7 linked regions of the Homo sapiens genome follow. The protein of the gene in region 4 purifies or fractionates together with the protein of the main gene of each other region. This does not show direct contact. Each region holds a gene or a part of one and is shown on either strand. Other genes may lie near its edges. The genes, in order: SERPINB2, ALDH7A1, COX15, SLC25A32, SPAG7, TCEA1 and AKR1A1.

What was found.
Region 1: the proteins of SLC25A32 (region 4) and SERPINB2 purify together in Homo sapiens (affinity purification with mass spectrometry; one large-scale study listed by BioGRID and IntAct). This does not show direct contact.
Region 2: the proteins of SLC25A32 (region 4) and ALDH7A1 purify together in Homo sapiens (affinity purification with mass spectrometry; one large-scale study listed by BioGRID and IntAct). This does not show direct contact.
Region 3: the proteins of SLC25A32 (region 4) and COX15 purify together in Homo sapiens (affinity purification with mass spectrometry; one large-scale study listed by BioGRID and IntAct). This does not show direct contact.
Region 5: the proteins of SLC25A32 (region 4) and SPAG7 purify together in Homo sapiens (affinity purification with mass spectrometry; one large-scale study listed by BioGRID and IntAct). This does not show direct contact.
Region 6: the proteins of SLC25A32 (region 4) and TCEA1 purify together in Homo sapiens (affinity purification with mass spectrometry; 2 studies listed by BioGRID and IntAct, with this or other methods). This does not show direct contact.
Region 7: the proteins of SLC25A32 (region 4) and AKR1A1 purify together in Homo sapiens (affinity purification with mass spectrometry; one large-scale study listed by BioGRID and IntAct). This does not show direct contact.

The regions. Positions count from the first base shown.
Region 1 is NC_000018.10:63,900,767-63,904,794, reverse strand, and holds the end of SERPINB2 (plasminogen activator inhibitor 2), read right to left. Parts: intron 3,056-4,028; coding exon 2,913-3,055; intron 2,392-2,912; coding exon 2,227-2,391; intron 1,895-2,226; coding exon 1,490-1,894; 3' UTR 907-1,489; downstream 1-906. UniProt on the Homo sapiens protein: Inhibits urokinase-type plasminogen activator. The monocyte derived PAI-2 is distinct from the endothelial cell-derived PAI-1.
Region 2 is NC_000005.10:126,550,220-126,554,063, reverse strand, and holds part of ALDH7A1 (alpha-aminoadipic semialdehyde dehydrogenase isoform 1 precursor), read left to right. Parts: intron 1-665; exon of another isoform or gene 666-762; intron 763-1,926; coding exon 1,927-2,043; intron 2,044-3,770; coding exon 3,771-3,844.
Region 3 is NC_000010.11:99,721,781-99,725,966, reverse strand, and holds part of COX15 (heme A synthase COX15), read left to right. Parts: intron 1-1,843; coding exon 1,844-2,011; intron 2,012-4,186. UniProt on the Homo sapiens protein: Catalyzes the second reaction in the biosynthesis of heme A, a prosthetic group of mitochondrial cytochrome c oxidase (CcO). Heme A is synthesized from heme B by two sequential enzymatic reactions catalyzed by heme O synthase (HOS) and heme A synthase (HAS).
Region 4 is NC_000008.11:103,398,138-103,402,308, reverse strand, and holds the end of SLC25A32 (solute carrier family 25 member 32), read left to right. Parts: intron 1-254; coding exon 255-368; intron 369-647; coding exon 648-793; intron 794-1,762; coding exon 1,763-1,898; 3' UTR 1,899-3,671; downstream 3,672-4,171. UniProt on the Homo sapiens protein: Facilitates flavin adenine dinucleotide (FAD) translocation across the mitochondrial inner membrane into the mitochondrial matrix where it acts as a redox cofactor to assist flavoenzyme activities in fundamental metabolic processes including fatty acid beta-oxidation, amino acid and choline metabolism as well as mitochondrial electron transportation.
Region 5 is NC_000017.11:4,958,512-4,962,243, forward strand, and holds the end of SPAG7 (sperm-associated antigen 7), read right to left. Parts: intron 2,343-3,732; coding exon 2,275-2,342; intron 2,037-2,274; coding exon 1,948-2,036; intron 1,808-1,947; coding exon 1,723-1,807; intron 1,601-1,722; coding exon 1,511-1,600; intron 1,406-1,510; coding exon 1,249-1,405; intron 1,133-1,248; coding exon 1,023-1,132; 3' UTR 715-1,022; downstream 1-714.
Region 6 is NC_000008.11:53,977,011-53,981,196, reverse strand, and holds part of TCEA1 (transcription elongation factor A protein 1), read left to right. Parts: intron 1-2,025; coding exon 2,026-2,172; intron 2,173-2,499; exon of another isoform or gene 2,500-2,674; intron 2,675-4,186. Other genes in the region: LYPLA1-TCEA1 readthrough, read left to right, coding at 2,026-2,172.
Region 7 is NC_000001.11:45,563,866-45,568,051, reverse strand, and holds part of AKR1A1 (aldo-keto reductase family 1 member A1), read right to left. Parts: intron 1,484-4,186; coding exon 1,364-1,483; intron 1,184-1,363; coding exon 1,032-1,183; intron 71-1,031; coding exon 1-70. UniProt on the Homo sapiens protein: Catalyzes the NADPH-dependent reduction of a wide variety of carbonyl-containing compounds to their corresponding alcohols.

The sequences.
Region 1 (4,028 bases), on a different chromosome or scaffold from region 4:
CCAGCTTAGAGTGAGACAGTTTTATTACTGACAAAGATAAGATAGATCATAATCACTAATATTTATTAAATATTATATATGCCAAGTATTCTTTTAATTGCTGGATATATATGAACTCATTTAGTCATTATAGCAATATGATAAAAACAGTTTTTTCTTTAGTTTTCACTGAGAGAAAACTGAAGCACAAAGAAGCACCATGGTTGGCCTGTGTTGAAGCTACTTGTAAGTGTTACAACTGGGATTTGGAGGCAGAGAGTCTAAGTCTTGAGGCCACTTTTTTAGCTACCATGTTCTAGTGCATCAAGCATCCCTGCCTGCCATCAAAGGGAGTGTGCTGCATTTCCAGGATCCAGCCGCACTTCTGCAGCCAGACTCTGTTGTTCAGGCCCCCAACCTACAATTTGCCTTATTTCTCAGGTCTTCAATTATGTTCTCCTCTGCCTCTGACTCATTCAAAAGCATTACTGCTATTAGAAACAAACACACTTAGAAAGAGCCATCTTATGTTTCCCCTCCTGCTCTTGCACCCAACCCATCTCCCATCTTCACTGCTTGCAACTCTGAGCTCAATGACTGAGGCCTTCTTCTGTGTCTGGACCACTGGACTTGGTCATTAATCCTGGTGTCCTTAATGTTTAGACAGTGGTTTCCCCAAAGGACTCTAACCTAGACTATTCTGAATTGCTATGTCTTTGCTGCTGTGAGAAAGCAGCTCTAACCCATTTTTCATACAACCCCATCCCACTGACCCTCAACATTGGGTCTTTTTGAATGAAGGTTGTTATGTCCTTGGCTCCTTCATCCTGTCTATTTTTTCTGAGTTCTCACAAGTGAGTCATAATGCTCAACTCCTAGGAGTCAAGGTCTATGATCTGCAGACCTAATGAAATGACAACAAATGTATTGTTGTTTGGAAGCAGGTTTATTTATTATATACTTGCAATTGAATATAAGATACAGACATATATATGTGTTATGTATTTCTAGAAATGCACATAACATATATTTGCCTATTGTTTAATGTTTTTTCCAGATATTTATTACAGAAGGGCATGGAGGGATACCTACTTATTCTTCATTATGAGAACAATTAAAGGCATTTATTAGATAGGAAATTAACAGATCATCTGCTTCTATAACTTTATTAGCTACATTAAATAGGCAGTGAGCAATAATTTAAAAACTCACCATTATATAAAATAATAAATAACAAAGTAAAAGTTAATGTTATAAAAATAAACTGATAGTAAGGAAAATCTAAATGGGCATGATCCCATTTTAGAAGACCAAATGATTAATAGGGTTGTCATGTTATAATAGACAATTGTCTAATTATTTCTGTGTTTTTATTTAGTGGGTAGCAGAAGTTGTTCAGAAGAGCAGAAATATGTAGAAAACATCTCTAAATTTTTGGCAATTTGAAATAGCAATTCTGAGGCACACAGCTCATCTACAAAAATCTTTTGCAGAAGCAGCACGCTTAGTTTTAGGGTGAGGAAAATCTGCCGAAAAATAAAATGCAGTTGGTTATCTTATGCATAATAAGAAAAAGAAAAGGATGATCTGCCACAAACTGTGGGCCTCCATGTCCAGTTCTCCCTGTCATAACACCTCCTGTGCCAGCGGCTGCTTCAGTGCCCTCCTCATTCACATCCACCATGGCTTGGTGGAACACTTCAGAAAGAAACAGGTCATTCCTCTCCGACATCCCTGAGAAATTGGCCCGTCCCTTGTTGAAGGCGTCCTCCATGCCCATGCTTCTCAGAATGGATCTGAGTTCATAATGCTCTTCTAATTTGAACTGGGGTATGTATACCTCAACTTCATCTTCAGCCATTTTGTCTTTGCTGGTCCACTTGTTGAGTTTGTCATAGGTTATTTCACTTTCCAGCTGCAAAGCAAAACAAAACAAAACAAACAAAAGAAAATACAGCAAGTATTAGAAAGAAGGAAAACAACTTTAAGTCTAATATTAAAAATCAGTGACTTTACTATATTGTGGGTGATATAGAAAGTTAACAGATTGGTCAGATTTTTACAAGAAGGTAACACGTATGACATAGTTAAGGCTTTGAATGAAATGTAGAGGCATGCCATATTTACTATCAACTGTTTCATATATTTCCATGAGAAATTACCACACCATTTGTAAGGAGTATATATTCATCTCATCTCACGAAAGGTAGGTATAGCCCCAGAAACTTAAATATCTGAATGTCTTACCAGCTCCAAGCCAGTGGACACATCGGCAATTTCATCTGGAAGCAACAAGAACATGCTAACATCTCCAGCATATGGGAGTTCTAGAATCTGAGCCTTTAGGTCTTCTATGTATCCAATGTTTAGCTTTTCACGCAAGTACATCATCTGTACAGGTGTGCGCTGAGCCTAATATTATTAAAAGGTAAAATATGGAAGTCGATTATAAGATATCAAGAGATTTACAATTAGACATAAAGGAGGATTGGTTCTACTTTAGTGTAGGATAAATGTGATTTTTTTAAATCAACAAAATAAATTATTTGTACATCCTTACAGTGGGTACTCTGATGTTATTAGCTTGTTCAACTTTATACCCATTATTTAGTAAGATGGACAACAATGGTAATGACAACCATAATTCTAAAACACTTGTTTAGTTCTTACTATGGGCCAGGAACCGTGCCATGTCTCAATATTTACAGCCCTTTGAAATAAGTGGTAGAGCCAACGTTGGAGTCTGGGCATGTATAATTAAAAAGCCACAGTCTTCCCCTTTACCTATACTGTTTCTAAAGAGTCAATCAACTGTCCAACATGCATAACTTCTAACTAGCAAGTCTATAATGAGCGGTCTCTAATTTTTCTGTCTATATCTTGTCAAAAGCCCTAAAATATATGCTAGGAAGATGTATTTTGTTGTCTCATACCGAGTTTACACGGAAAGGATAAAGCCCATTTAGTTTCTTCTCAAATGGAGTTTTCCACTTTCCTTTGAAGTAGACAGCATTCACCAGGACCATCCTGGTATCCCCATCTACAGAACCTTCAGGTAACAAGTTTGGGATTTTGCCTACAGAAAACATAACATATATTTAGGTTTCATAATCAAGAACTGTGAAATTACTTACTGAATCTTCTGAGTAGCCATCAAACTAAATTCTTCAAATTGCAGAGTTGTTAATCTTCAAGCTAAAGTTTTTTAGGTTTATTTAAAGCAAAATTAAAATTGAAACAAATTTCCCAAAAGCTTGCAAAATCCAAGAAAAAATGAAGAAATAATGCATTTAAAATTTAGACCGCCTATCAAGTTTGGAATGGAGATTTTCACTCCCTTTTATATTCTTTTCTCAAAGCTTGGCAGTTGAAAGTTATTCAAATCAGAGGGAAGTGAAAGAGAGGTTCTTAGGGAATATAATAGTGCCTTTCCAAAATATATCATGTACTGCTAGATCTGGTCTAGATAGTCTGAGGATCTGACTTACTCATTTATTCAAAAACGTTTTGTAAAAAATATACTAGACCTAAATTAAGAGTAGTGCAGATACAAGAGATGAGAAAGGAAGAATTATCCTGGATGAGCCTAGAACACTGGGGGAGACATTCAAAATCAGTTGTGAAACCCTGTGTGATAACTTCTGTAATTGAGCTAAATAATATATTGAGTACTATGATCATACAGAGAAGGGAGTGAAGGAGTAAGCCCGAGAAGATTGACAGAAACAATGACAAATGAGTGTGGTCATTTAAAAAAATGAAATTGGTTTAAGAAGCAGTTTGTTTATAGTTAGTACTCGCTCTGCAGTATTCCAAGCATCAAAATATATTATTTTGATACTCTATTAGGTGGGTTTTATTAGTGTCATTTTATGCAAAAGGACACCACCAGGTTAGCAGTCTTCCCAACGTTACAATGCTGGTAAGCTTGTAAAAATTCTGCCTCCACAGTCAAAACTACTGACAAATACAAGACTCTTAACAAATTAATAGGTCAATGTGGTTTTGAAGTAGGAGGTGGGACCTGACTCTGGAGGCAGGTTTTAGAC
Region 2 (3,844 bases), on a different chromosome or scaffold from region 4:
CAATCTTGGCTCACGGCAACCTCCGCCTCCCAGGTTCAAGTGATTCTCCTGCTTCAGCCTCCCGAGTAGCTGGGATTACAGGTGCATGTCACCACACCCAGCTAATTTTTATATTTTTTGGTAGAGATGGGGTTTCCCATGTTAGCCAGGCTGGTCTCTAACTCCTGGCCTCAAGTGATCCACCCACCCTGGCCTCCTAAGGTGTTGGGATTACAGGCATGAACCACCACACTTGGCTCTGTTTGTTTTTGTGACAGGGTCTTGCTCTGCCACCTAGGCTGGAGTGCAGTGGTGCACGATCTCAGCTCACTGCACCCTCTTCCTCCTGGACTAAAGCAATCCTCCCACCTCAGGCTCCTGCGTCTTGCTCTGTTGCCCAGGCTGGAGTGCAGTGGCGTGATCTCAGCTCACTGCAACCTCGCCTCCCAGGTTCAAGCGATTCTCCTGTCTCAGCCTCCCGAGTAGCTGGGATTACAGGCACCCATTACCATGCCCAGCTAATTTTTGTATTTTTAGTAGAGAAGGGGTTTCACCATGTTGGCCAGGCTGGTCTGGAACTTCTGACTTCGTGATCCACTGTCCTTGGCCTCCCAAAGTGCTGGGATTACAGGCGTGAGCCACCGTGCCCAGCCAGAAATACACGTTTTAAAGAATGACAACAATGCTTGCTTTGGCAGCACATATACTAAAATTGGAAAGATACAGAGAAGATTAGCATGGCTTATGCACAATGATGATATGCAAATTCATATCCGTATTTTAAAAAGTATTCCATATTTTAAAAAAAGACAGCAGAAAATGCATGGGACATTTCTGGAAGGACATAGAAGAAACGGAGTCATGGTTGCTTTTGAATTGGGTCCTTAATATTTGTATGGAAAGGAAAATTCCTTTTCAAGTACAGTAGGAGACTTTGTATTCAGAGCAATTATAATCTATTTATTGGTTATTTTAAAAAGTCAGTTAAGGCAAGGAATAAAAAAATACATATCATAAGCATTAAAAAAGAAATTAACACATATTGCCAGGTGCAGTGGCTCACACCTGCAATCTCAGCACTTTGGGAGGCTGTGGTGGGAGGATTGCTTGAGGCCAGGAATTCAAGACCCACCTGGACAACATAGTGAGACCCTGTCTCAAAAAAAAATTAGCTGAGTATGGTGGCATGCACATGTAGTGCTAGCTACTTGGGAGGCTGAGGTGGGAGGATTGCTTGAGCCCACAAGTTCGAGGCTGCAATGAGTCATGATGATGTCACTGCACTGCAGCTTGGACAACAAAGCAAGACCAAATCAAAAACAAAAAACCAAATAATAAAAAAAAAAAATCAAAAACAAAAAACCCCCCACATATAAAGATTTGTTTGTGGCCGGGCATGTTGACTCACACCTGTAATCCCAGCACTCTGGGAGGCTGAGGCAGGTGGATCACTTGAGGTCAGAAGTTCAAGACCAGCCTGGCCAAAATGGTGAAACCTGGTCTCTACTAAAAATACAAAAAAAATTTAGCTGGGCATGGTGGTGCATGCCTGTAGTCCCAGTTACTTGGGAGGCTGAGGTGGGAGGATGGCTTGAACCCGGGAGACGGAGGTTGCAGTGAGCTGAGATCAAGCCATTGCACTACAGGCTGAGTGAAAATAACCGCTTGCAGCAGTGTTTGTTCAACATAACTTGGTTGTGTCACATGGCATGGCTCTCTATCCCTGCCTGACTCCTTATTTCCATTTTTCTCTGACCAACTAAGTTAGAACCAATATCAGGAAGAGAGAATTTTCTTTCATGATTGGAAGTTATTTTGGAGAAATAATTCACCTATAAATGATGCTAATTTTTTTCTTTATAAATGTAGGCAAAGATTGCATCCTCTGACCCCAAGTCCTAGAAAACAAAATGCTTTCATTCTTTTTATTTCATTTCTCTGCATTAGGTTATGGATCGCCCTGGAAATTATGTAGAACCGACAATTGTGACAGGTCTTGGCCACGATGCGTCCATTGCACACACAGAGACTTTTGCTCCGATTCTCTATGTCTTTAAATTCAAGGTAAAAATGCATTCTGTTCGCTAGCCTGATGTTGAAATAAATGATAAGAGGAAAATGATGGTGGATTAAATTTCACTGGATGAACCTTTAAGAGGGTTTTAGAAAGTAATCTGAATAGTAGATATATGAAGGTTCAGGATAAAATATGAGATAAACACTTTAAAACTCTATAGCATGCCAAGCTAGCTGCCAGGGAAACCAGATTGGGTAGTGGACCAGTGTTGGAGTTTATGAAGTGTGTGGTCCTCATTTCCTGTGTCATCTTAATCCTGGGCTGTGTAGGCCATAGAGTCACCTTCTCCTGAACCGTGGTACTGGATAGTTTGATAGCCTGAGTGCTGTGAACATGTCAGCAGACAAAATGAGAACATGTGGGGGTAATACAAAGACCTATAGTTGGCCAGGCACGGTGGCTCACACCTGTAATCCCAGCACTTTGGGAGGGTGAGGCAGGCAGATCACCTGAGGTCAGGAGTTCGAGACCAGCCTGGCCAACATGGTGAAACCCCGTCTCTACTAAAAAACAAAAAAATTAGCCAGGCGTGGTGTTGGGCGCCTGTAATCTGTAATACCAGCTACCTGAGAGGCTGAGGCAGGAGAATCACTTGAACCCAGGAGGCTGAGGTTGCAGTGAGCCGAGATCGCACCATTGCACTCCAGCCTGGGCAACAGAGTGAGACTCCATCTCAAAAAAAAAAAAGACCTATAGTTATAAACTCCAGCAGAGGACAGGCTGCGGAGTTTTGTTTTGTTTTCCCTGATCTCATATCTTGATCTCAAACTGTAAAGGTTTTAATAGGTGAAGAAGCTGGGCACAATGGCTCATGCTTGTAATCTCAGTGCTTTGGGAGGATCACTTGAGGCCAGGTGCTCAAGACCAGCCTGACCAACACAGTGAGACCTTGTCTGTACAAAAAAATTAAAAAATTAGCCAGGTGTTGTATGTACCTATAGTCCTAGCTACTCGGGAGGCTGAGGTGGGAAGAGATCCTGTCTCTAAAACAAACAAATAAATAAAACCCAAAAAACCCACACAGGTGGATAAATTAGAAGATCTCATTCCCTAGCTTGAGACGGGCCCTAGCCTCGCCAGTAAATATTTAGGATTAATTTTGAGACTGCAGAGATTGAATCAATATTTGAATGTACCATTATTAACAGTAAAATAATAGTGAGAATTGCATCTTGTTGCAATTACATCATTGCTTCTTTATTTCTTGCTTTAAATTGCCTATCATTGTTTCACGTATGGGGACTAGAGAATATAATTTTGTGTTTTGTAATGTGTTTGTGTACATTATGAGGCTGTGTGAGCTCTTGAGCAAATTAGTCTCTGTAGGCCTCAGTTGCCCAATCTGTAAATTGGGAGGTAGTAGGAAACCTGTGTTATAGGATGAGGATTAAATAACTAAATGCATGTTAAGTGCTTAGATTGGTGTGTTACACACGTAAGAGCTCAATAGATATTAGCTATTATATGTAGTAGCTTGAATGAAAGGAAGAATGTGTTAATATTTGTTTCTGATAATTAGGGGAAAAATCCCAAAATTTTTTACTTATTATCAATGATCTGAATTATAAGAGAAACAGAGTGAGTAAACTTGACTCTTTGGTTTCCTTTTGTACACTGAAATTATACTGGTACACTTCAGGAAATGAGTTTAATGTCAGTGAACTTTGACTTGAACACTATAACATCTTACAGCTTCCAATGTCTCTCCTTTTAGAATGAAGAAGAGGTCTTTGCATGGAATAATGAAGTAAAACAGGGACTTTCAAGTAGCATCTTTACCAAAGATCT
Region 3 (4,186 bases), on a different chromosome or scaffold from region 4:
GAGATCCTAAAGGAGATTATCAGGGCATCAAAGAAACATCAAAATTTAATCAGGAGGAAGCTAATTGGTTAATTTAACTCAGAAGTGGTAAGAAAATGAGTCAGTTAGAAGGGATTAAGGCCGGGTGCAGTGGCTCACACCTGTAATCCCAACACTTTCGGAAGCCAAGGTGGGGGATCAGGAGTTCCAGACCAGCCTGGCCAACATGGTAAAACCCTGTCTCTACCTAAAATACCAAAATTAGCTGGGCATGCTGGCGTGGGCCTGTAGTCCCAGCTATTTCGGAGGCTGAGGCAGAAGAATTGATTGAACCGGGGAGGCGGAGGTTGCAGCGAGCTGAGAGGTTGCACCACTGCACTCCAGCCTGGGCAACAGAGCAAGACTCTGGCTCAAAAAAAATAAATAAAGAAAGAAGGGATTAAGGAGGGAGATGAGAGAGAAGAAATAGAGGCAGCAGAAACAATAATCAAAGTCTAATAGTAACCAGAGAAAGGCATGTAGAACAAAATGAAAGTTAACATTTTAGAATTAGAAAAACAAGCCAACACTGAAAACACTATTAGGGAGGCAGAAATTAAAGATGTCAGATAAGGTATGGGAGAAGAAAGTGGGCTAGTGAATCAACTGTGTACGTCTTCATCTTTCAATGTCTCTTGCAGATGAAATCAAGGTAATTAGAATATCCAGGGTAATCTTGAAAGGGGAGAGAAATGCCCAAAAAGATTTCCTGAAGAGTATATATTTAGAAGTGGCAGAGTCCACCTCTTTGACCTGATTCTACTGGCAAGTGGGAGTGAAAGGGCTGTCTTATTTCATATGATTGGAACTAACAATTGTTTGGTTAATTGAAAAAGCCAGTTAAAGCAGAGAATCATAGAATATGATACATAACATAAACTTTTAAACTTAAATCTGTACGTTCATTACCAACTTTTACAAAATCAAGGCCTTTTCTTTGACTATGCGTCCCCAGATTGGCATTCAACTGCAGGTTTCTTATATCCCCATAAACTGTGGTTTTGCTTAAAGCGGAGTGGGAACTTAGATATTTGCAAAGCGATCTGCATGCAAAACCTTATTGATTTTTATGATTTTCCCCTGAAACTTTTATAATTGTCTTATTCCAACCTAACTTGACAGTAGATGTTTTTAAGCATTTACCTTTATTAAGTTTCTCCAAAACATTCAATCTAGTTTTATGAGATATATCCATGGACCTTTTTTTTTTTTTAAAGCTCATCAGCTACTGTTAGTGTTAGTGTATTTTATGCATGGCCCAAGACAATTCTTCCAGTGTGGCCCAGGGAAGCCAAAAGATCAGACACTTCTGATCTAAATAGTAGTTAAGTATTAATGGTGATATGTGAAGAACTGTGGATAAATCATGAATCTTGGGACACTGCGTATTGGGGAGGGTATGGAAAGAGGAGGGGTGGGGTAGAGAGTACTCCTGATAGCTCATTTCCTCAGTAAAGTTGAACAGATCAGGCCGGGTGTGGTGGCTTACGCCTGTAATACCAGCACTTTGGTAGGCTGAGGTGGGCGGATCACGAGGTCAAGAGATTGACACCATCTGGCCAACATGGTGAAACCCCATCTCTACTAAAAATACAAAAATTAGCCAGGCGTGGTGATGCGCAACTGTAGTCCCAGCCACTTGGGAGGCTGAGGCAGGAGAATCACTTGAACCTGGGAGGCGGAGATTGCAGTGAGCCAAGATCCCGCCACTGCACTCCAGCCTGGTGACAGAGTGAGACTCTGTCTCAAAAAAACAACAAAAAAAAGAAAGTTGAACAGATCATTTTAACCTTGTTTTGTTTGCTTCATCTCTTGGGGGTTCTAGGGTCTGTTGGGATGGTATATGGTGAAAAGTGGACTAGAAGAAAAATCAGACTCCCATGACATCCCTCGGGTCAGTCAGTACCGCCTTGCTGCCCACCTGGGATCAGCCCTGGTTCTTTATTGTGCCAGCTTGTGGACCTCACTGTCACTGCTACTCCCTCCGCACAAGGTAAGAGTTGTGTGCAAATATCTGTGTTCAAGACCCCGCTTTTGGTTCTTTTGGATATATATCTAGAAGTAGAATTGCTGGATCATATAGGAGTTGAATATTTTGCCAACATTTTCTATTGGCAAAGGTGAAACAAATTGAAAAATAGAGTGGGAGGGAGTACCAACAACAAGAAATATCCCAGTCGCTTTACCTCTGACTCCTAGAAGGGATGGTGGATGGCAAAGTGAGAAAGATCAGAACAGAGGTGTTTCTGAACTTCTGGTGTGGACAAGAGCTATATTGTTCGTTAAATGGGGACCTGCCAGTTAAGTCTAATAGTAAACCTTAGTGATTTTGTCTGAAGTATTTTTCTGTCTGCTGATTAAAGCAAAGTACTAGTTTTTCATTTTATGCTTTGATTTAAAAGCAAGGTATAACATTTTTTTGAGGCCTTCATTAATAATAGAGGTTCCAAGACACCACACCCTTATAGGACATTTTTTTCCCTAGAATTTTTTTTTAAATGAGTCTTGGCCAGGCGCGGTGGCTCACGCCTGTAATCCCAGCACTTTGGGAGGCAGAGGCAGGCAGATCACCTGAGGTTGGGAGTTTGAGACCAGCCTGACCAACCTGGAGAAACCCCATCTCTACTAAAAATATAAAATTAGCCAGCCATGGTGGCACATGCCTGTAATCCCAGCTACTCGAGAGGCTGAGGCAGGAGAATTGCTTGAATCCGGGAGGCAGAGGTTGCAGTGAGCTGAGATGGCACCATTGCAGTCTAGCCTGGGCAACAAGAGCGAAATTCCATCTCCAAAAAAAAAAAAAGAGTCTTATATTAGGTATTGAAATCATGGGTTGACCTGAGTAAGCTGTTCCTGGAGAAAAGTTTGAGATGACAGCAGGACTCTTAAGTCGAATCATCCATTAGGTACTTGGAGCTAGTAGCTAGATCCCAGTAAGGACTGGACGTGTTGTCTTGGCAGTCATTCCCACAGAGAAGCCAAATTGGGTTGAAATATTGATACAGTAGACAACCACTGAATAATTCCACATCTGAAAAATAAGGAATTATTTGAAAGTCTCCTGACTTTCAAAGCCAAACTTCATTTATTTACTTATGTATTTATTTATTTATTTGAGATGGAGTCTTGCTCTGTTGCCCAGGCTGGAGTGCAGTGGTGTGACCTTGGCTCACTGCAACCTCCACCTCCCGGGTTCAAGCAATTCTTCAGCCTCAGCCTCCCGAGTAGCTGGGACTACAGGCGCACACCACCATGCTCGGCTAATTTTCTGTATTTTTAGTAGAGACAGGGTTTCACCATGTTGGCCAGGCTGCTCTTAAACTCCTGACCTCAGGTGATCCACCCGCCTCGGCCTCCCAAAGTTCTGGGATTACAGGTGTGAGCCACCGTGCCCATCAAAGCCAAACTTCTAAAATGAATTCATTTTAATTCAGACTTCTAAAATGAATTCATCTTAATGAATTCATTTTGCCTGCATCTATAGCTGCTGCTTCCTGACAATCTATTCCTTCTTTTCAGTCCCTGTAATTATCTTCCTCACCCAACCCAATACATACACACTCACACATTTACCCACACTTACACATAAACCCACACACTCTTGCTACTGAAATTGTACTCTTAAAGGTTACTGATGACTTTATCAATTGTTTTTCTCTGTTAGTTTAGATTCACCTAATTACAAAAAGGATTTGAGATGCTACCCAATGAGCCATATAGTGCTATGCTGTCCAACACAGTAGCTACTAGCTACATATGGCTATTTAAATTTTAACTAATTAAGGCTGGGCACGGTGGCTCACACCTGTAATCCCAGCACTTTGGGAGGCTGAGGCGGGTGGATCATTTGAGGTCAGGAGTTTGAGACCAGCCTGGCCAACATAGTGAAACCCCCATCTCTACTAAAAGTTAAAAAATTAGCTGGGCAATAGTGGCGCGCACCTGTAATCCCAGCTACTTGGGAGGCTGAGGCAGGAGAATCGCTTGAGCCTGGGAGGTGGAGGTTGCAGTGAGCCAAGATTGTGCCACTGCACTCCAGTCTGGGCGACAAAGTGAGAAAAAAAATTTTTTTAATTAAATAAAATTTATTTACATAAGCTTTTTGTTTATTTAAACTTTATATTTAAATAAAATTAATTTTTTATTTAATTTTCAGTCATACTAGCCA
Region 4 (4,171 bases):
CTTCTTTATATGTATACTGTTTAAAGAAAAACTAATATGTGAACATCCAAACCTTTAAAAATAAAGTAGAAGAGAATACTACCCATGTCTTTATATTACAAGTTTTTAACCCCATATTTTAAAAATGTGATTTGTGCAAAATTAAATGAATTTGCTTAAAGTGCTGTAATGAGAGAGAAGAGAAAGTATTTTACTTAAATATATTGTTCTTCAAACGTATGTTGTTTTGCTTTTTAAAAATCATTCCCTTGTAGGGATTTGTTCCTGGGCTGTTTGGAACATCGCATGGTGCCCTTCAGTTTATGGCATATGAATTGCTGAAGTTGAAGTACAACCAGCATATCAATAGATTACCAGAAGCCCAGTTGGTAAGATTATTCTTGTAAAAATGATATCATTTCCTTTTATGGGTATTTAATAGGTAGAAATTTTTGTCATGCTTACTTTGGTGGTAGTGCTATGATGATGAGTACTGGCTCTGCCACTGATTTAATTTATAGTTAAATATTTATAGGCTGAAGCCACACAAATGTCAAAAATAGAATCCCTTAAAGATCCATTTAAATGTTTTTTGTATATAATTTTTACTTCTGTATTTTTAAAGAAATCCTGTCTAAAGAAAAAACTGTTTTGTATTGCCATTTTAGAGCACAGTAGAATATATATCTGTTGCAGCACTATCCAAAATATTTGCTGTCGCAGCAACATACCCATATCAAGTCGTAAGAGCTCGTCTTCAGGATCAACACATGTTTTACAGTGGTGTAATAGATGTAATCACAAAGACATGGAGGTGAGAGCACGTGCTATATCAAAAATTGCTTTGACAAGGTACCTTGCATATCTTAGACCATCCTGTTGATACTAGTTTTATAGCAAAGGCCAGTTTGCTGTGGTGAAAACATGATTGGTGGTCCCTGCTTTCCCAGTTATTACGTATGTGACCATGGCCTTAATCTCTCTGAGACTTAATTTCTTCATTTGTAAAGTAAGACTTTCTAACTAATAGGTTGTTATAAGAATCAAATTAAATGTGTGAAAATGTTTTGGAAAATAAAATTTAGGTGTTATAAAATATCTGAATGGTATTGAATATAAGAAGTCATAAGACTAGCTTAATACATTCAAGAAGGCTCCACACCTGCTACTGGCACCATAACTTTTGCAAATACTTGTTTCCATATATGAAAGAGATGTTTGTTCTTCAGTATGAGACTAGTTAAATTATTATAGGCAGACATCACCATATTTCCCTTTAATTCTAAAGGAACAGAGGAGAACATTTAGGATGTTTAAATTTAATTCAATTCAAGAAATATTTAATGAGCACCTAAGTGACAAATTTCTAGGCCGTATTCCATATTATTGGCATTAAGGAAATAAAGTTTTATATTTGTATGTGCTGTATTTAATGTTGGCTAGCATTTATCCAAGCTATGAGGTTTTTTAATGCCTACATTAGGTCAATTAAAACTCCTGCTTGTACATACATTTAAAAGCATTTGAAAGATAGCTAATTGAAAGCACTTTTTAGTTCAGTTTTGAGGTGTCCCTACCCTCTCTTACTCAGTCCATCCATAAAAGGAATGTAAATCCCTACAGATGGCTTATAAACTACATTACTTTAGGACATTGAAAACATGAACTTAAATCAGAGTAAGGTTTGACTGCTGCTTGCTCCATGCCTTGTGTCAGTTAGAACTTCCGTGTTTTCAAGCTAGCTCTATACAAAATTAAGCATTATCTATTTTTCCCTCTAAAGGAAAGAAGGCGTCGGTGGATTTTACAAGGGAATTGCTCCTAATTTGATTAGAGTGACTCCAGCCTGCTGTATTACCTTTGTGGTATATGAAAACGTCTCACATTTTTTACTTGACCTTAGAGAAAAGAGAAAGTAAGCTCAAAGAGGACAATTCCAGTATATCTGCCCAAGGCAGCAACAAGCTCTTTTGTGTTTAAGGCATAAAAGAAGAATTCTGCATAGAAACATGGCTCATATTCGAAATTGCTCTATAGTCATTAGAAGCCAGAGAACTGCTAAGTCTCCTGCAATGTTTTTCTTGCTTTTTGCCTTCCCCATATATATGGAACTTGGCTACCTCTGCCTGAAATGGCTGCCATCAACACAATGTTAAAACTGACACGAAGGATAGAGTTTCACAGATTTCTACGTTTTATTGGTGGAAGCTGATTTGCAACATTTGCTAAATGGATTAGATGAATGTACTTCTTTTTGTGAGCTTACTTGCCTGGATTGCTTTAAAATTAACCTTTGTGCAATACCAAGAAAATAGCTCTTTAAAAGAATGTCTTTGTATGTCTCAAGGTAAATTAAGGATTTACTGAATAAGGTGTTGACCAAATCCAGACCATTTTATTTTATTTTTTTATTTATTTATTTTTTGAGATGGAGTCTTGCTTTGTCGCCCAGGCTGGAGTGCAGTGGCGTGATCTCAGCTCACTGCAACCTCCACCTCCCGGGTTCACGCCATTCTCCTGCCTCAGCCTCCTGAGTAGCTGGGACTACAGGCACCTGCCACCACGCCTGGCTAACTTTTTTTTATATTTTGAGTAGAAATGGGGTTTCACCATGTTAGCCAGGATGGTCTCAATCTCCTGACCTTGTGATCCGCCTGCCTTGGCCTCCCAAAGTGCTGGGATTACAGGCGTGAGCCACTGCGCCTGGCCAGACCATTTTAGAATTGGGAAATTTTAGTGAGAAAAAATGCACTGTAAATATGCTTTAGTTTTAATTCAGTTGGGATGCACTACCTAGCGAAAATTGAGAAACTATATACTTCTCAGAGAAATATCTGACATCTATTGTCATTCCATTGCTATTTTTTTTCCCCAGAGACTTCCATAATTTAAAATAAAATCCTAGATCCAGTTCTTGTTTTTTGGCATAAATACTTAATCTATTTTAAATTTATAAAATCTGAGCTTCTAGGATCCAGCTGTGTCAACCTTTATTTAGCATATATAACTATAAATCACTTATTACAGATGCTAAATAGATCACCTTTTACAGATGCTGAAATGTTTGGGATATGTTTGTTGACAAGGTAAATGGAAATGAGAAACTTTATACTTCAGTTTTCAGATATATGGATCTAGATCCCAAATAAATGATTAATCTTCATTGGTTTCTCAAATTCAGGTTGAAATACAAATTAATAGCCTTTATTGATTTTACTTTTATGAGTCATTGTAGACATCTATAAATATAAAAGGGCCTGTACCCAAAGGATGCCAGAATACTAGTATTTTTATTTATCGTAAACATCCACGAGTGCTGTTGCACTACCATCTATTTGTTGTAAATAAAAGTGTTGTTTTCAAAGCCATCTTTAAATAGTTCTTTAAAAATAGGTCTTTTTTTTATATTTTGGAAAAGGCATTGTTTTTAAAGTAAAGATAAAATGGTAAGTACCTAATTGTATTTACTGTAATATCTTATAACATGCAGATGAATGCTTTATAAGTTAAATATGATGTATTTTTTCATACTTCTGGATTATACTATAATTCATATGAAATCTTGATATTAGTCCCCACACGGAAAAAGTGAACTGCAGTTGATATTTGGTGTTTAAGATAGCACCATTGTTTAAATACCGCCTATGTACTCCCAAATGAATAAAACATAATTCTTGTCCTCTGAGAGCATACAAGCTTGTGTGATAGATAAATATGCATTAAATAATTACAGCTATAGATTAAGAACTCGTAAGGAATATCTCACAAAGCCTGGTAAGAGTTCTGACAGAAGAGAACTCAATTTCAGTCATTCAACAACAAATAGTCACTCAACTCCTGCTCTTTGGCAGGTACGTCACCAAGCACTGAGGATATAGCAATAAATAAGCCAGACAATATTCCTGCCCTCAGGGAATTTTCATCTTGGTGTAAGTGACAGAAAAGGAAATATATGCATAATGTAATTTCAGGTATTTAATGCTATAAATAAAACTACAGCAGAACGGGGGAATAGTGTTGCTATCTTAGGTAGTATGGTTGGGGTCAGGAAAGGTCTCTGAGATAGTATTTGGAACATTTTGAAAGAAGTGAGGAAGCGAGCCACAGTGAGAGGAAACACATTCTAGGCAGAGAGGACAGGAAGTAAAAAGGGCCTGAGGGAGGAATTAAGTTGGCTAGAGGGGATGGGTGA
Region 5 (3,732 bases), on a different chromosome or scaffold from region 4:
TTGTGGCCTAGACTGATCTCAAACTCCTGGAGTCAAGCGATTCTCCTGCCTTGGCCTCCCAAAGTGCTGGGATCGCAGGTGTGAGCCACTGCGCTCAACCAATTTTTTAATTTTGTAGAGAGAAAGTCTCACTATGTTGCCCAGGCTGATCTTGACCTCCTGACCTCAAGTGATCCTCCAGCCTTGGCCTCCTAAAATGCTGGGATTACAGGTGTGAGCCACTATGCCCAGCCCGATTGCACTCTTAAAATACAGCATCTTACAAAACCCTCTGGGCCGGGCACAGTGGCTCACTCTTGCAATCCCAGCACTTTGGGAGGCTGAGGCGGGCGGATCACCTGAGGTTAGGAGTTAGAGACCAGCCTGGCCAATATGGTGAAACCCCATCTCTACTAAATGTACAAAAAATTACCCGGGTGTGGTGACACATGCCTGTAGTCCCAGCTACTCAGGAGGCTAAGGCAGGAGAATCGCTTGAACCCTGGAGGCAGAGGTTGCAGTGAGCCGAGATCACACCACTGCACTCCAGTCTGGGCAACAGAGAAAGACTCTGTCTCAAAACAAACAAACAAACAAAAAACCTCTGATAGTTCCAACTGGCCATCTTTAACCTACACAAACAGCAATTTTATGCTGTTCAACTGAAAATTATTCCCCTTCTTCTCTACCAGTGGTTCCAGGACCCACCTTTCTGTGTATAAACAAACCAGGACATTGGGTTAAACAGTATTTATTGAATGTAAAGTACCCCAGCCCCATGGGGAAGAAAATTCCAAGAACGGGGAATAATACAGATTAAATACCCACCTGTGCATTCACACTCTCACACACACACACACATGCCACGCACATATCCAAGCTCCAACGGTGACAAATCAAACACCTGTTTTCCCCCAGCCTGAGGGACAGCTGGTAGGAGGTGGTTCAGAGGTGGGGCTCCAGGATGGGCTCTAATAGCAGCAGCCTTGTCTCTCCCTGCCCCCTGCCCTGCCCCAGGGGTCAAAGGGAGCTGGGCGGGGCGCCTAGGAGGTTGGCGGCAACTCTTCCCCACTCTGCCGCAGACGCTTCTTGGCTCTGATCTCATTCATAGCCTCTTCAATGGAGCGTGTGTCCCTCTTATTGGCCACGGGCACTAGGGGCAGAGAGGAGGGTAGGGCGGGCCTAGAAATCCGTACCTCAGCCTCCACTGCCCTCCTGCCGCATCCTATGCTCCTCTCCCAGCCACCCCCAGCCGCACTGTGGCCTCACCACAGCCGTAGGTCTTATTGGCCTGTAGCATGTGGGCTGCGTCTTTGGCTGCTCCCTTGCCGATGAGGTGGCTGTACTTGTCCTTGTAGTCGCTGGCAGGGCTCACCACCACAGGCCCCTGCTGGGCTGCCTCCTCCTCTTGCCTCTGGGCCAGCTCCTAGGGGTGAAAGTGGGGGCACTGGTGCTCAGGGCCCCAGCCCAAACCCCCACCCCTCCCAGGTGGTGGGCTTCTGGACCCCAAGGGCTGCAAAGCATAGCTCACCTTCAGCTTCCGCTTCTCCTCAGCCTTCTGGGGGTCCCATTCCTCTCCACGACGGTAAGAGTCTAGCTCTTCATCTGAGGGTGCAAACTCCTGAAGAAGAGCAGAATGATGGGGTCAGAGTCCATACAAATGTTTCATTTCATTCCTTGGTCGGGGAGGGGGGATAAGGCTACAAAGGGGAGAGGAGAGAATGAGGAATTCAGGCCCTTTACCTTTTTGAAGATCATGACATAGCGACAGTCATCATCTTCCCCAAAGGAGAAGGATGTCAGGCCAGCCACTTCCACCACATCATGTCTGGGATGGGATGGCAGAGGGGAAAGAGCATCTTGAGCCAGGAGCGGGCCTAGTGCCCTCCTCTGGAGGAGCCCCCCGCTGGCCCTTTCATGCCCCGCTAGCCACCCATTTCCTTCCTCCCCCAGCCCAGGGACACTCACAGTATGCTCCTCTCGATCTTGTTCATTGGCTGAAACTTTTTCTTGATCTGCCCACTGTCTTGAATGAAATCTGACACCTCCTTCTCCATCTTGGGAGAGGGGAAAGGAAGCAGATATGAGACAATGGCTCCACCCAAGTACCCCTCTCCCTAGCTGAGCCTGGGCCCTTCTACGCCTCCCCAGCACCCTCCCCAGCCTCCAAGCCACTGGCTTCCATGCGTCACCTCTCTCAAGACATTTTCAGCAAAACTGAGTCCTCAACCTTCCAATTTTAACTTATTGGAAGTCCTTCCTGAGTCTGCCTTTGATCACTCCAGTTGTTCTCACCCTTTTACGAAACTCCACTTTCTGTTGTTTCTCTTGCTCTTGTAGTTTCTTCAGGCGGGCGGCCTGTTCTGGGGGTGAGAAATGGCAACATGAAGCCAGGGCTGGAAGCATGGGTGGGAAAGGTTTCTAAGGCTTCAAGTGAAGTGTGGTGTCCACTGGGAGGTGTCAGGCTGGGAAGGTAGGATTAGCGTTTATTCATCAAGCATTTATTGATGTTTATTCTATCTAATAGTCCCCCTTATCCACAGGGGTTCATTCCAAGACCCTCAGTGGATGCCTGAAATTGTGGATAGTACTGACCCCTATACATACTATGTCTTTTTCTATACATACATGCCTATGATAAAGTTTAATTTATAAATTAGGCACAGTAAGAGATTAAGAATAATAGACCAGGCATGGTGGCTCACGCCTATATCCCAGCACTTTGGGAGGCCGAGGCAGACAGATCTCCTGGGGTCAGGAGTTCGAGACCAGCCTGGTCAACATGGTGAAACCCCATCTCTACTAAAAATACAAAAATTAGCCGGGTGTGGTGGTGGGCGCCTATAATTCCAGCTACTGGGGAGGCTGAGGCAGGAGAATCGCTTGAACCTGGGAGGCAGAGATTGCAGTGAGCTGAGATCGCGCCATTGCACTCCAGCCTGGGCAACAAGAGTGAACTCCGTCTCAAAAAAAAAAAAGAGATGGCCGGGTGCAGTGGCTCACACCTGTAATCCCAGCACTTTGGGAGGCCAAGGTGGATGGATCATGAGGTCAGAAGATCGAGACCATCCTGACTAACACGGTGAAACCCTGTCTCTACTAAAAAAAAAAAAATATACAAAAAATTAGCTGGGTGTGGTGGTGGGCGCCTGTAGTCCCCACTACTCGGGAGGCTGAGGCAGGAGAATGGCGTGAACCTGGGAGGCGGAGCTTGCAGTGAGCAGAGATGGCGCCACTGCACTCCAGCCTGGGCGACACAGCAAGACTCCATCTCAAAAAAAAAAAAAAAAAAAAGAGATTAAGAATAACAATAATACAATAGAACAATTATAACAATGTACTGAAATAAAAGTTTGTGGCTATGCTCTCTCTCTCTCTCAAAATATCTTACTGTATATAACAGTTCTGGACTGCAGGTAACTAAAACCTTGGAAAGCAAAACCTTGGATAAGGGAGAAGTAGGGACTACTGTATCTGGCACCAGGCGAGACCCTGAAGTACTGAGATTATTAAGACACAATGTGGCCCTTCAAGAGCTCCCAGTTTAGTGGGAGTGACAAAGATCAGAATAATGCTTAACCCCCTTTCCCAACTCCACTGGGGAAACCAATTAACAAATATCTATTTATTTATTTATTTTTGAGATGGAGTTTCACTCTGTCACCCAGGCTGGAGTGCAGTGGCATGAGCTCAGCTCACTGCAAACTCCGTCTCCCAGGTTCAAGCGATTCTCCTGCCTCAGCCTCCCAAGTA
Region 6 (4,186 bases), about 49 Mb from region 4:
CAGCACTTGCTGCTTCACCTTGCATTTTGTACTATGTTATGGAGACAGCTTCTTTCCTTAAACCTCATGAACCAGCTTCTGGTAGCCTCTTGACTTTTCTTCGGCAGCTTCCTCATCTCTCTCAGCATTAAAGAGTTAAGGCCTTTTTCTGGATTAGGCTTTGGCTTAAGGGAATGTTGTGGTTGGTTTGATCTTCTGTCTAGGCCACTAAAACGTTTTCATATCGGCAATAAGGCTATTTTGATCATTATTCATGTGTTCACTGGAGTAGCACTTTTAATTTCCATCAAGAAATTTTCCTTTGCATTCACAATTTGGCTAACTGGTGTAAGAGACCTAGCTTTTGGCTTATCCCAGCTTTCCATATGCCTTCCTCACTAAACTTAGTCTTATTTCTAGGTTTTGATTTAAAGTGAGACATGTTGACTCTTCCTTGTCCTTGAATACTTAGAGGCCATTGTAGGGTTATTAATTGGCCTGATTTCAATATTGTTGTGTCTCAGGGAGTAGGGAGGCCCAAGGAGAGGAAGAGAGACGGGGAAAGAGTGGAGCAGTCGGAACACACACAGCATTTGTCAAGCTTACTGTCCTATGTGGTCAAAGTTAGTGGTGCCCCTAAAACAGTGATAGTAACATAAGAAATTACTGATCACAGATTACCTAACAGATATAATAATAGTGAAAATGCTTGGAATATTGTGAGAATTACCAAGATGTGACACAGAGACATGAAATGAGCACATGCTTTTGGAAAAATAGCGCCAATAGATTTGCTCAACACAGCATTGCTGCAGACCTTCAATTTGTAAAAAATGCAGTAACTGCAAAGTGCAATAAAATGAAGCACAATAGCGCAGAGCAAGATAAAGCAAAGTATGACTGTAGCTGGTAAAAACTGGCGTGAGAAGATGACCCTGGCATATTCTATACATTTCTTGCCTCAAAACTGGAATCAGGCATTCCTCCAGAGATCCCTGACTTCTTTTGGGAGTGGGGTGTAGGCAATGCTATTAGAAACTATAATCTGGATACTAGAGGTACTCGTTGTAAGTTTACATTGTTCATAGTGTAATCACCTGACAGCTTCTTCCCGCCCACTACACAGACAAAACCAATTCACTGAGACTGCGCTATTGCGGTTAAGAAAGAGTTTTATTAATGCAAGGCTGGCCATGCAGGAGACGAAGTTATTACTCACATTAGTCTCCCTGAAGACTTGGAGGTTAGGGTTTTACAAGAATAGTTTGGTGGTAACTATTCCTAGGTGACTAGGGAATGGGTGCTGCTGATTGATTGGGGATGCAATCATAGGGATGTGGGAACTGGTCCTTCTGTACCTCTGGGTGAGGGGCCTGAGTTCTGGAGGGGTCAGTCTGAAAAACATCTCAAAAAACCAATCTCAGGTTCTACAATAATAATGTTACCTATAGGAGCAATTGGGGAAGTCACACACTTTGTGTCCTCTGGCCACATGACTCCTGAGCAGTGAGGGATTATAGAAACTATGTCTACATTTTAGCAGAGTTCAGGCCTGTCCCATAATCCTAATCCTCTGGCATTTCATTAGTCTTAACAAAGGTGATCTCAGGCTCTGAACAAGGAGGGATCGATTTTAGGGAAGGACTGTTACCATCTTTGCATCAAAGTTAAACTAAATTCCTTCCATGGTTAACTTGGCCTGTGCCCAGGAAAGAGGGAAGACAGCCAGCCTGTGACACTAGAAGCAAGATGGAGTCAGCCATGTTCAATTTCTCTCACTGTCATAATCTTTGCAAAGGTGGTTTTAGTAGCCTTTAAACAGTACTTAAATCCAATTTTCACATGTAAACTTTTAAGTATTTGAAGAAATTTTTAAAAGGAATTAAACTCTTACAAAGCCTTTGAGGAAAAATATTAATTTAATGCTTTTAAAACCTTAAAGGTTGATATGTGGTTTTATTATTATTAGGCTAATTGAGCATAAAAGCATTCAGGATATATATAGAAGGTGTCTATAACTGAGTGGTATTGCCCCCTACCTCATAGGAAATGGCTAGTGATGAGCTGAAAGAGATGCGGAAAAACTTGACCAAAGAAGCCATCAGAGAGCATCAGATGGCCAAGACTGGTGGGACCCAGACTGACTTGTTCACATGTGGCAAATGTAAAAAGAAGAATTGCACTTACACACAGGTTTGTGATTGTTTATAGATTCTTATTTTTATATAAAAATGCTTGCAACTCCTGTTTTAAAATAAATAGCAAAGATAATTACCAGTATGATAGTCCCTCACTTATCCATGGAGGGATATGTTCTAAGACCCTGAGTGGATGCCTGAAACCACGGATAGTACCTAACCCTATGTATACCACGTTTTTTCCGATACATATGTACTGATAAGTTTTATTTATAAATTAGGCATAGGAAGAGATTAACAATAATAACTTAATCAAATAGAATAATTATAACAAGATACTGTTATGAAAGTAATATGAGTGTAGTCTTTCTGTCTCTCACAGTGTCTTGCACTGTACTCACCCCTGTTCATTTGATGAGATGAGGCGAAGTGAATGATGTAGGCATTGTGACTAAGTGTTAGGCTGCTGTTGACCTTCTGATGATCCATCAGAAGGAGGCTCATCTGCTTCAGGTGGTCCTGCCTCATCGAGCCCTGATGATGTGGATGACTAATGGGTAGGTAGCATTACAGTGACACACACTGGACAAAGGGATGATCTGTATTCCAAGTGAGACAGAGTAGGATGGTACAGGCTGTCTTCATGCTACTCAGAACAATGTACAGTTTAAAACTGATGAATTGTTTATTTCTGGAATTTTTCATTTAATATTTTCAGACCATAGATAACTGAAACCATGGAAAGCAAAACCATGGATAACTGGGGACTAGTTCAAGAGGAGATAAGATTTCTTTCTTAAGTGTAAGAATGATTTTTTTTAAAAAAAATTATTATTATTTTTTTGCGGAGATGGGGTCTTGCTGCATTGTCCAGGCTGATCCCAAATTTCCAGACTCGAATGATCCTCTCACCTTGGCCTCCCGAAGTACTGGGAATACAGGCATGAGCCTCTGTGCCTTGTCAGAATGCTTTCTTAATACTGATTCTAGTTAACTAAAACCAAGTTGATATATTTATACTTTCACAGAAATAGTTACTATGAAAGCTATGTCAAAATTTATAAAATATAAGAATTAATAAAATGACCATGTTCTTTTTTAAAAGTTCATAAGCAATTGTATTGGTTACTAGGTAAATTGGCCATAATCCTTTTTATTTTGCAGGACTATATAATTTAAGGAAAGTTCTTCACGCTCCTCCACATGGCTTATGAGTACTTTAGGCTTAACTGTCTTCTGGATAATTTGTTCCTTTTTGTAATATTGATAACTTACATTTATGTACGATATGACTAGCCTTTTTATTCTTTAACAGCTGAAAACCGTGTTATAGTTATTTTGGTTGCATGTGCATATGTGAAAATTTTTTTTATCACTGTCTTAATTTCATTTGCCAAATAGGTTTTTGTGCTATGTTATCTGCTGTAAACTCAAGATTGTCTCCTTAAGGGACAACTTACTATGTTTCAGATAGTAGATTTGGGGAATTGATTTTTTCACCGATAGAACATTAAGCACTTAAAAAATAGCATCACTAAACTCTAAAGGGGCCTTTACTTAAAACAAATTTTGTTGGTAGTTATTTTTGTGGTTAAAAATTGAAAAAGTACAAAAGTTTATGAGTAGGAAATTCCATTCCCACTTTTGCCTGTGGCCACCTCGTTCTCCCTCCCTGAAAGTAAAGCAAGGTTACTAGTTTGTTGTGAAACTTAGGTATTTTATGTGTATACATGCAAATATTTTTGTTTTCCTTTTTCTTTGAGACAGAGTCTCACTCTATTGCCCAGGCTGGAGTGCAGTGGCGCCATCTCAGCTCACTGCAAACTCCGCCTCCCGGGTTCACGCCGTTCTCCTGCCTCAGCCTCCCGAGTAGCTGGGACTACAGGCACCCACCACAACGCCTGGCTAATTTTTTTGTATTTTTAGTAGAGACGGGGTTTCACTGTGTTAGCCAGGGTGGTCTCGATCTCCTGACCTCGTGATCTGCCTGTCTCAGCCTCCCAAAGTGCTGGGATTACAGGCGTGAGCCACCACGCCCAGCCTTTGTTTTCCTTTTTCTAAACACATAT
Region 7 (4,186 bases), on a different chromosome or scaffold from region 4:
CTCCTTGTAGTGGGTGGAGTCGTAGCATATAGTCCCATCAGCATTCTTGGGGAAGGGGTTGTCTCCCCGCCTGAGTGAGAGACAGCCCCACCAAGTGTGGACACAAATGCCAGGCTTCTACCCTACCTGCCCATCCAGCCACTCTATGTCCCAAACTCCAATCCCAGAGAGGACAAAGGGCCAAGAATTTTTAAAAAGCCATGCTTTTTCTTTTTTTTTTTTTTTGAGATGGAGTCTCGCTTTACCGCCCAGGCTGGAGTGCAGTGGCACTATCTCAGCTCACTGCAAGCTCCACCTCCTGGGTTCACGCCATTCTCCTGCCTCAGCCTCCCCAGTAGCTGGGACTACAGGCGCTCACCACCACGCGCAGCTAATTTTTTGTATTTTTAGTAGAGACGGGGTTTCACCGTGTTAGCCAGGATGATCTCGATCTCCTGACCTCGTGATCCGCCCGCCTTAGCCTCCCAAAGTGCTGGGATTACAGGCGTGAGCCACCGCGCCTGGCCAAAAAAAGCCATGCTTTTTCATCCTTCCAGATCGTAACCCAGGTGTTAAGTTTACATGGAATGCCTATGCCCCCTCCTCTTCCTAGACGTAGATATCTCCTCTCCCCTAGGAAGTCTTCCTTAACTCATCCTCAGGGAGTTATCCACCCTTCTTCCAGCACAGGGCACGGCACTAATGGTGAGCTCTTCTCACATCTTCTGCTGAGACTTACTTATTACTGTAACCCCAGGTGCTCAACAGAAAAGTCAGCACCTTTTCTAAATGAATAAAGGGAGCAGGAGGGTTACAGGTGCATACCCTGGGGTACACACCATGTGAGACTGCCTTCCTTTTTCCAGAGTTAAACTCCTGTAGCTACAGCTAAGCTGCTGTAGCAGAAGAGGCTAAGATCCCATGTCAAGCTCCTCAGCTTGGCATGCAAATGAGTGTTCCTATCCTGCTCTGCTGCTGTGACTTACAATAAGTTACTAACACCATCCTGCTCAACCCCCTGATTCCCCAGATGAGGCTCTGGCAAGGCTCACTCAAAGGCATAAGGCCAGTGCATCAGGTACAGGTCCAGATACTCCAGCTGGAGGTCAGCCAGAGTCTTCCGGAGGGCAGGCTCCACATCCTCGGGGTGGTGCTTGGTGTTCCACAGCTTGGATGTCACAAACAGCTCCTCCCGAGGCACCGCCTAGTGCAGGGGGCAGGGCCCACAGTGAGAAGAGCCATGAGCACGTGGTCTCACCCACCCTCAACTCTGGGAGAGGAACTGGAAGGAAGCTGATGCCAGATTCCCTCCAGCTGGGCCCCAGCCCTAGCTTCAGCTTCTAAGTTCTCTTATCCCACCTCTATTTACAACCCCAGTCCTTACCTTGCCTGGTCCCACGTCCTCCTTCAGGGCCTCCCCAATCTCAGGCTCATTGCCGTAGATAGCAGCACAATCAATGTGGCGGTAGCCTACGCTAAGGGCATACTTAACAGCTGCTTTTACCTGCCAGGTGAGAGAAGCAGAGGTTTCAGCTATGTTGGTTTCAGCCTTCTACTGTCACCACCCCAAGGTCAATGCTGGGGGAAGGGGGCTCAGAAATATAACAGGCACATCTATGCAGTGGAGGTGAAAAGATGGAAGATGAACTGGGCGCGGTGGCTCACGCCTGTAATCCCAGCACTTTGGGAGGCTGAGGTGGGCAGATCCCCTGAGGTCAGGAGTTCGAGACCAGCCTGGCCAGCTGGAGGTCAGCCTGGCCAACATGGTGAAACCCCATCTCTGCTAAAAATACAAAATTAGCCAGGTGTGGTGGCAGGTGCCTGTAATCCCAGCTACTCAGGAGGCTGAGGCAGGAGAATCACTTGAACCCAGGAGGCAGAGGTTGCAGTGAGCTGAGATTGTGCCACTGCACTTCAGCCTCGGCAACAAGAGCGAAACTCCATCTCAAAACAAAGAAAGAAAAAAAAAAAGATGGAAGATGGTTTCAGTCTAAGGGACCAGAAGCCTCTTCAGAGGCTCCAAACCCTTTGCTCTGCTCCCACCCCAACCAGTCTCTAAGATGCCTTCCTACCCAAGCCATCTCAGCAAGGTCTAGCAAAAACTAACAATATTTTCCCGGCATCTACCATAAAGAGGGCTTCAGTAAATATTTTTTCAGGCTGAGCACAGTGGCTCACGCCTGTAATCCTAGGACTCTGGGAGGCTGACATGGGAGCATTGCTTGAAGGCAGAAGTTCAAGACCAGCCTAGTCAACATAGTGAGACCCCCACCTCTTTAAAAAAAAAAAAAAAATTAAGGCCAGGCGTGGTGGCTCACGCCTATAATCCCAGCACTTTGGGAAGAAGAGGCAGGTGAATCACCTGAGGTCAGGGGTTTGAGACCAGCCTGGCCAACATGGTGAAATTCTTTTCTCTACTAAAAATACAAAAATTAGCTGTGCATGGTGGCATATGCCTGTAGTCCCAGCTACTCAGGAGGCTGAGATAGGAGAATCGCTTGAACCCAGGCGGGGGAGGCTGCAGTGAGCTGAGATCATGCCACTGCACTTCATCCTGGGCGAGACAGAGTGAGACTCCGTCTCAAAAAAACACAAAAAAAATAACAACAAAAAATTGAAAACAAATTTTTTTTTTTAAATAAAAGCCAGGCGCGGTGGCTCACACCTGTAATCCCAGCACTTTGGGAGGCCGAGGTGGGTGGATCACCTGAGGTCGGGAGTTTGAGACCAGCCTAACCAACACGGAGAAACCCCGTCTCTACTAAAAATACAAAATTAGCTGGGCGTGGTGGTGCATGCCTATAATCCCGGGTACTTGGGAGGCTGAGGCAGGAGAATCGCTTGAACCTGGGAGGTGGAGGTTACAGTGAGCCAAGATCATGCCATTGCACTCCAGCCTGGGCAACAAGAGTGAAACTCCTTCTCAAAAAAAAAAAAAAAAAAAAAAAAATGGCTGGGTGTGGTGGCTCACGCCTGTAGTCCCAGCACTTTGGGAGGCTGAGGTGGGTGGATCATGAGGTCAGGAGATCGAGACCATCCTGGCTAACACGGTGAAACACCGTCTCTACTAAAAATACAAAAAATTAGCTGGGCGTGGTAGGGGGTGCCTGTAGTCCCAGCTACTCAGGAGGCTGAGGCAGGAGAATGGTGTGAACCTAGGAGGCGGAGCTTGCAGTGAGGCGAGATTGCGCCACTGCACTCCAGCCTGGGCGACAGAGCAAGACTCCATCTCAAAAATAAAATTAAATAAATAAATAAATAAATAAAAATTTAAAAATTTTCAAAAATAAATAATTTTTTTTTTCAATCAGAAGACAGATGGATAAATAGAGAAAAGAAGTATAGACCATGGAAACAAGTTCCAGGTTCTAAGGAGCTGGTTAGAGAAACACAGGAAAAAATTCCTAGGCCAAGGACATACAGGGAGTTGTGTAGACAGACTCTGGGAACTCTGGGAGCACAGGCCAGCAAAAGAGGTTAGAAGGGGGAAAAGATTAAGGAAGGCAGATAAGTAGGCTGAAAGCTGGAGGCAGATAAGTGGGCTAAAAGCTGGACCCAGAACTCCCTAATGAGAGAGAAGAAAACAGGCATCAGATAGAAGGATGGGTCAGTTAATTTTGCTAAAATCCAGACTGGAAACACGGCATCAGCAGCAGAAACAAGGGTACCCGGCCCTAGACACAAAGCACCCAAAGCTCTTGTTGTGGGTGCCTGACATAGTATTCAAGATCCCCACCCGGGTGCCGACGTACTTCCCCTAACATCTGACCCCTGCTGTTCCATGCCCCGCCTTGGCCTTGTCTGTGGCCCCCAACCCTCTGCCTTGACCTAGCTCCTGGACTTCTCCGAGGCTGTGAGAAGTGCCTGCCTAAAGCACAGGGACCCTGGCTCCAGGCTCCTTGGCAGCTATAGGAAAGAAAGCAAAAGGGAAAAGAGACACAGGTCATCCAAGCACACCACAAACATCAGTCTAAATCCCAGATAGAAGAATCTGTTCTCTCTGCTGGGGCTTCTCTGAAACTTAATCCCCAAACTTCTCTTCACTCTGACTCAAGATTTCCAAGGAAGAAGGAAGAAGCCCTGGGGAAATGCCCCATTCCAGGCAGGAGCCAAATCTCATAGCTACGTCCACCCTGAGAGAGCAGGTCCATATTCCCAGACTCCCCTCAGCTGGGATGGTCTACACCAGGGGTCAGTCAATTATCAA